Regions from separate parts of the Homo sapiens genome. Here region 1 is linked to region 2. The links come from fine-mapping of genetic effects on gene expression. Tissue or cell type: whole blood. Region 2 holds a variant in brackets; the other region holds the start of a gene. All regions are shown on one strand. Distances are from middle to middle.

Region 1 (2,765 bases), 59 kb after region 2:
ATGCTCAAGATCACTAATGATCAGGGAATTCCAAGTCAAAACTGCTATGCCGTATGTACCACCCTACTTCCGCAAGAATGGCCATAATCAAAAAAATCAAAAAATAATAGCTGTTGGTGTGGATGCGGTGAAAAGGGAACACTTCTACATTACTGGTGGGACTGTAAACTAGTACACCACTATGGAAAACAGTGTGGAGATTCCTTAGAGAACTAAAAGTAGAACTACCATTTGATCCAGTAATCCCACTACTGGGTATCTACCCAGAGGAAAAGAAGTCATTACACGAAAAAGATACTTGCCCATGCATATTTATAGCAGCACAATTCGCAATTGCAAAAATGTGGAGCCAACCCAAATGCCCATGAATCAATGAGTGGATAAAGAAACTGTGATATATATATATATATATATATATGTGGTATATATATATGTGATATATATATAATGATGGAATACTACTCAGCCATAAAAAGGAATGAATAAATGGCATTCGCAGAAACCTGGATGGGACTGGAGACTATTATTCTTATTCTAAATGAAGTAACTCAGGAATGGAAAACCAAACATCGTATGTTCTCACTCACAAGTGAGAGCTAAGCTTTGAGGATGCAAAGGCATAGGAATGACACAATGGACTTTCGGGACTCGGGGAAAGGTTGGGAAGGGGGAGAGGGATAAAAGACTACAAAATTAGGTTCAGTGTATACTGCTCGATGATGGGTACATCAAAATCTCACAAATCATCACTAAAGAACTTACTCATGTAACCAAACACCACCTGTTCCTCAAAAACCTATGGAAATAATATGGAAATAAAAATTTATATATTTGTATAAATTATTTAAACATAATATAATTATATATCTATATATCCTTTATAAATGAGAGTTCATTTCCAGCCTAAAATGAGTACAACATACAAACCCACGAGTCTGGCTCTCCATTGTGCTTTAAAGCATAGTGCACCAGAATATGAAATAGCTGGACAATTCCACAAAGGATTTCGACTAAACATTAAGTCGTCAGAGACTCAATTAACATACTGCTCCATATTTGCTTAATTACCTTAAACCAGTACCCTGGGTGTGGAAAGGGACGATTGAGCGAAGTCTTCCTCAGACTGCGGTTCACCTCACCAGAGCGAAGGAAGCTGCAGCGGGCTCCAGGAGCCCAGTGCGTCCCCACCGCAGGCCCCACCCACCCACGCCCCGCTTGCCGCAGGCCCCGCCCACCCAAGCCCGCCCTTGCCGCAGGCTCCTCCCTAGTGTCGTCGCTACAGAGGAGCAGAGGATGACGTGAGGACAGAGTCGCGAACATCTCCTCGGAGCGCAGCTGGGCCAGCGGTTCCCACAGCCCTGGAGCCCAACGTGCGCAGAAGCGCCTCTTGGAGCTCCTCTCCCACAGATCTCTCGTCCTCTTCCTGGGCTAGGCCGCCCCAGGCGCGGCCCCTGCGACTCCTGGCACGGCCCCGTGCTCGGCTGCCGCCCTGGCGCGCGCCACACTGTCGTCCCCGGACGGGCGCGGACCGGCTCGGCCGGGGCGCCGGCGGCTGGGGAGGGGTCGCTGGCCCCGGGGCCGCGCATGCGCCGCCACCAACTTGGGGCTGTCAGTGGAGGGCGAGTGCTGGTTCTCAGGGGAGGCGACGCCCTTCGGGGCCAACGGGCCTCGAGCCGAGGCAGCAGTGGGAACGACTCATCCTTTTTCCAGCCCTGGGGCGTGGCTGGGGTCGGGGTCGGGGTCGGGGCCGGTGGGGGCCCCGCCCCCGTCTCCTGGCCTGCCCCCTTCATGGGCCGCGATGATGGCGGCCCTGTACCCGAGCACGGACCTCTCGGGCGCCTCCTCCTCCTCCCTGCCTTCCTCTCCATCCTCTTCCTCGCCGAACGAGGTGATGGCGCTGAAGGATGTGCGGGAGGTGAAGGAGGAGAATACGCTGAATGAGAAGCTTTTCTTGCTGGCGTGCGACAAGGGTGAGAGTTAGGCCCCTTTCTCCTCTGGACGCCCCTGTCCTCCAGACCTTTAGTCCTCTCCCCCGCCTCAACTTATATCGGGGCATTCCCTCTGTCTCAGGCGCCGAGTGTCTTCCCGCCTCGCCTGCTGCCTCAGGCGGTCTTCTCCTCACCGCCTCTGCCCTGTGAGTGTGGAGCTGGCGGGAGAGTGGAGCTGGGGCTGCGCCCTCGGAGCGCTGCACCGTCGGGGGTGGCTCTGGCCTTGGGGTCCGGGGTTTAGGTAGCGCCTTGGGAGCCCCGACCCCAGCGTTTTAGCGCCGCCCTTGCTACTGACCGCATGAATGACCTGGTCTTCTCTCTGGCTCGCAGTTCATTCCTTCCGGGAGTCGAGAGGCTAGTTTCCGACACTCCAGTCGGAAAATTCCGTCACCTTACCTTAGGATGCCTCGTATGGAGGGTTCTCATCACCTGGTTTTTGTTTTTCTTAAAAACAAAACCAGACCCTCTATTATTTAGCTTCACCTGACCAGTGCTTTAGCCAGTGACTGTTGACTGGCATTAATAACGGAATATCCTAGGTGGAGATACATGAAGTAAGGACGGGACGGAAGAAATTCTGCCTTAGTTGCCAAAACTTTCTCTGGATTTACGGAACGCCTTTGATTGTTAGTGCTTTTTATTGGAGAGAAAGATTTATTGCTCCCAGATCTTTCTTTGGGAGATAAAGATAGTGAAAAATAATTACAGGAATTACAAGGCAAAAATATGTGGAATATATTTAGCGCGTTATCCTTTTTTTAGTCTAGAAGTTAATCA
Region 2 (2,765 bases):
AAAATTTTACTTTCTGACCTTATGCTGTACATTTATAAATGCTATACTTTTCTCAAACTTGAAATGCAATGCTTATTTTCTTGAAATCGTGGGGTAAAATGCAAATAGAAATTATTAATTCATTAGGCTATTGAGAAATATCTGTGTAAAAGCACAAGGTGAGAAAAATAGGTGTTTCTTCCCCTTACTGAGTCTCAGTTATAGTTTGGCTGGCCTATGCTGAGAGATTGTTACCAGGGGACCTACTCATATTTGTTCTTTGTCAGCCAGATCTCATAGATAATTCCTCCTAGAGAATGTACTTCCTCTGTACCTTATATTGCTTAGTTAAATGTTTCCAAAGGCTTCATGCTTTTTTTATAATATTGCTTTTTCTAGATATAAAGACCTGAAGATAGTCTTTTCTGTCCAAAGATGGAAAACAGTACTACTACCATTTCTCGGGAGGAGCTTGAAGAACTACAAGAGGCATTTAATAAAATAGGTATGCTTGAGAAAAAGTAAATATGATATTACTGGTCTGCTTGATGTCAGACTTCAGGAATGGAAAAATACCTTTTATTTCATCTACCACCACCCAATTACCTCCAGATTTATTCCTTTTTTTCTATCTAGGTTTCACTGGATTCTTTCTTTCTGAAAGATAAGCTACGACTAGCTTGAATTTCTAGGTGAATTGGACTTTGAATTCTTTGATCATTTCTTTGCAGAGAGTAATCCAGGTTAATGAATGACAATGTAACTGAATACACTTTACACGGTATCCTTATTACAGAGAAAAAAATATAAAAATACTTCCTTGTGTATAAACTGAACTCTGGCCTTCACATCTTTGCACTAACAATAACACTTTCTGACTTCATGCAGAATATTTTTAAAATCTCAGTATTGTTTTTAAATGCCATATGTCTTATTTTCCTTCTCCCACATGCATAATTTAGAAAGTCTTAGTATTGTTTTTAAAGGCCGTATGCCTTATTTTTCTTCTTTCACTTTTTATAGCCATTTAGTGTTTTGTCTTTATGACATTATCATTTTGACAGTTTTGTATTTTTCTTCCAAAAAATTTTCCTCATACTCTGTTGGATCTCAATTCTTCTGCAATTTGCTCTTAGGAAACCCATGGTAAACAGGAGAATATAAATACCTTTTTTTTTTTTTGCTTTAGTTTGCAAATGCATGCAAGTGAAAGGTGAACCCAGTGAAAGGTGAGCACAGTGAATAGACATTGGGATAATGACACCACTATGTTTGCCCCTTACTCATCAAGCTCATTCTCTAGTGTAATAGAGCCCTCCATGAAAAACAGTCATATGGTAGATCAGGGAGGAGAAAATGATCACCGCTGGTCTTGTGCTTAGATTTCTCACAAACCTAATAACGACTAAAATTAATGTGAGTAAAATATCATGCAACATGAGTTTTATTGACCAATACAAAGAAAAACGATATGTTTAAAAAAAAAAAGCACTC[C/CA]AAAAAAAAAAAAAACCAAAAAACTGTGAAACTCAGGAAGCTCATGTTTTACAAATCATTACTGTGAAATAAAGTAAACTAAATTCTACAAATCTCTGGGCTCTTCCATTTCTCCCTGGGAATGGCATATTTGTCATTAGAGCATTGTATGAATATGGTATGATTTTCAGAAAACAATCATACATTTTATAGAGAATTGTATGTAGTGTCCAGAATCTTTTCAAAACAAAAACTGGGCAATTGTTGAAATGTTCTGCTCATTCTGAGCATTGAAACAGAGGAAGTAATAAAAATGTATCTCGTAGTTTGATATTTCTGTTATTTTATAGATGCAGTTTTGTAGCTTGAATAAAAGTTCTACCCAGGTCTTGGTAAAATAAATGAATTAGTAATATATTTGCTTTGTTTAGCACAACAACTTTAATCTTTGACTCATGAACATATTAATATAATCTTGCAATATTTATTTAATGATATATTGAATAAACAATTCACTGATGGAACAATTTTTTTTTTTTTAACAAAACCTTGTGTTGAGGGCTGACTTTCAATAGATTGTAGTGAGGGAGCTGCTCTGCTAGGTACAAAACCCCAACCCAGAAGCAGGTCCTTGATGGAACAATTTTGAGAGCAAGATAATTTGTTCTGTTTGAGCAAAGCAGTAACACTAGCAGAATAGGTACTTGCTGACTTTATTTAGGAGGTAAACTGCTACTCTGTGAACTCAGAAACCTCTCTGCTAATTTGTAGCACACTTTTCTCAAGGATAGAGGAACACGGCCATCCAATGTTATTAGATGGAGTATTTGGGGGCCACTGGGGAGAAGGGGGAAGTTGAAATATTTCTCTGTATTGTTTCTTTTTGAAATTGTGGTAAAATATACATAACAGAATTTACCATTTTAACCATTTTTAAGTGTATAGTTCATTAGCATTTAGTACATTCACATTGTTCTACATTCATCACCACCATCCCTTTCCCAAACTGAAACTCCATATCCATTAAACAATAACTCCCAAGCCCCAGGTGACCATCATCCTACTTTCTATATGAGTGTGACTACCCTAGGTACCTCACATAAGTGGAATCACATAATATTTGTCTTCTTGTGACTGGCTTATTTCACTTAGCACAATGTCCTCATCAACAGCTTCATCCATGTTGTAGCCTGTGTCAGAATTTCCTCCCTTTTTAAGGTTGAATAATATTTTATTGTATGTATATGCCACATTTTGCTTATCCATTCATCCACTGATGGCCATTTGGGTTGCTTCCACCTTTTGGCTATTGT

Evidence for each region. PIP is the estimated chance that this variant, and not a neighbour inherited with it, causes the effect.
Region 1: it holds the start of TRPC1, and the variant in region 2 is fine-mapped to the expression of TRPC1 in whole blood (INTERVAL, PIP 0.97).

Annotation. Positions count from the first base shown.
Region 1 is chr3:142,722,762-142,725,526 of GRCh38, forward strand. TRPC1 (transient receptor potential cation channel subfamily C member 1) reads left to right here and starts at 1,273. Exons shown (of 13, transcript NM_001251845.2): 1 at 1,273-1,970. The coding sequence starts at 1,799. RefSeq lists a silencer at 1,517-1,566 and an enhancer at 1,825-2,691.
Region 2 is chr3:142,663,824-142,666,588 of GRCh38, forward strand. PLS1 (plastin 1) reads left to right here. Exons shown (of 16, transcript NM_001145319.2): 2 at 379-484. The coding sequence starts at 415. Among named protein-coding and RNA genes, the nearest start is that of PLS1-AS1, 8.4 kb to the left of the region's middle. The variant C/CA (reference allele first, on the strand shown) is at 1,474.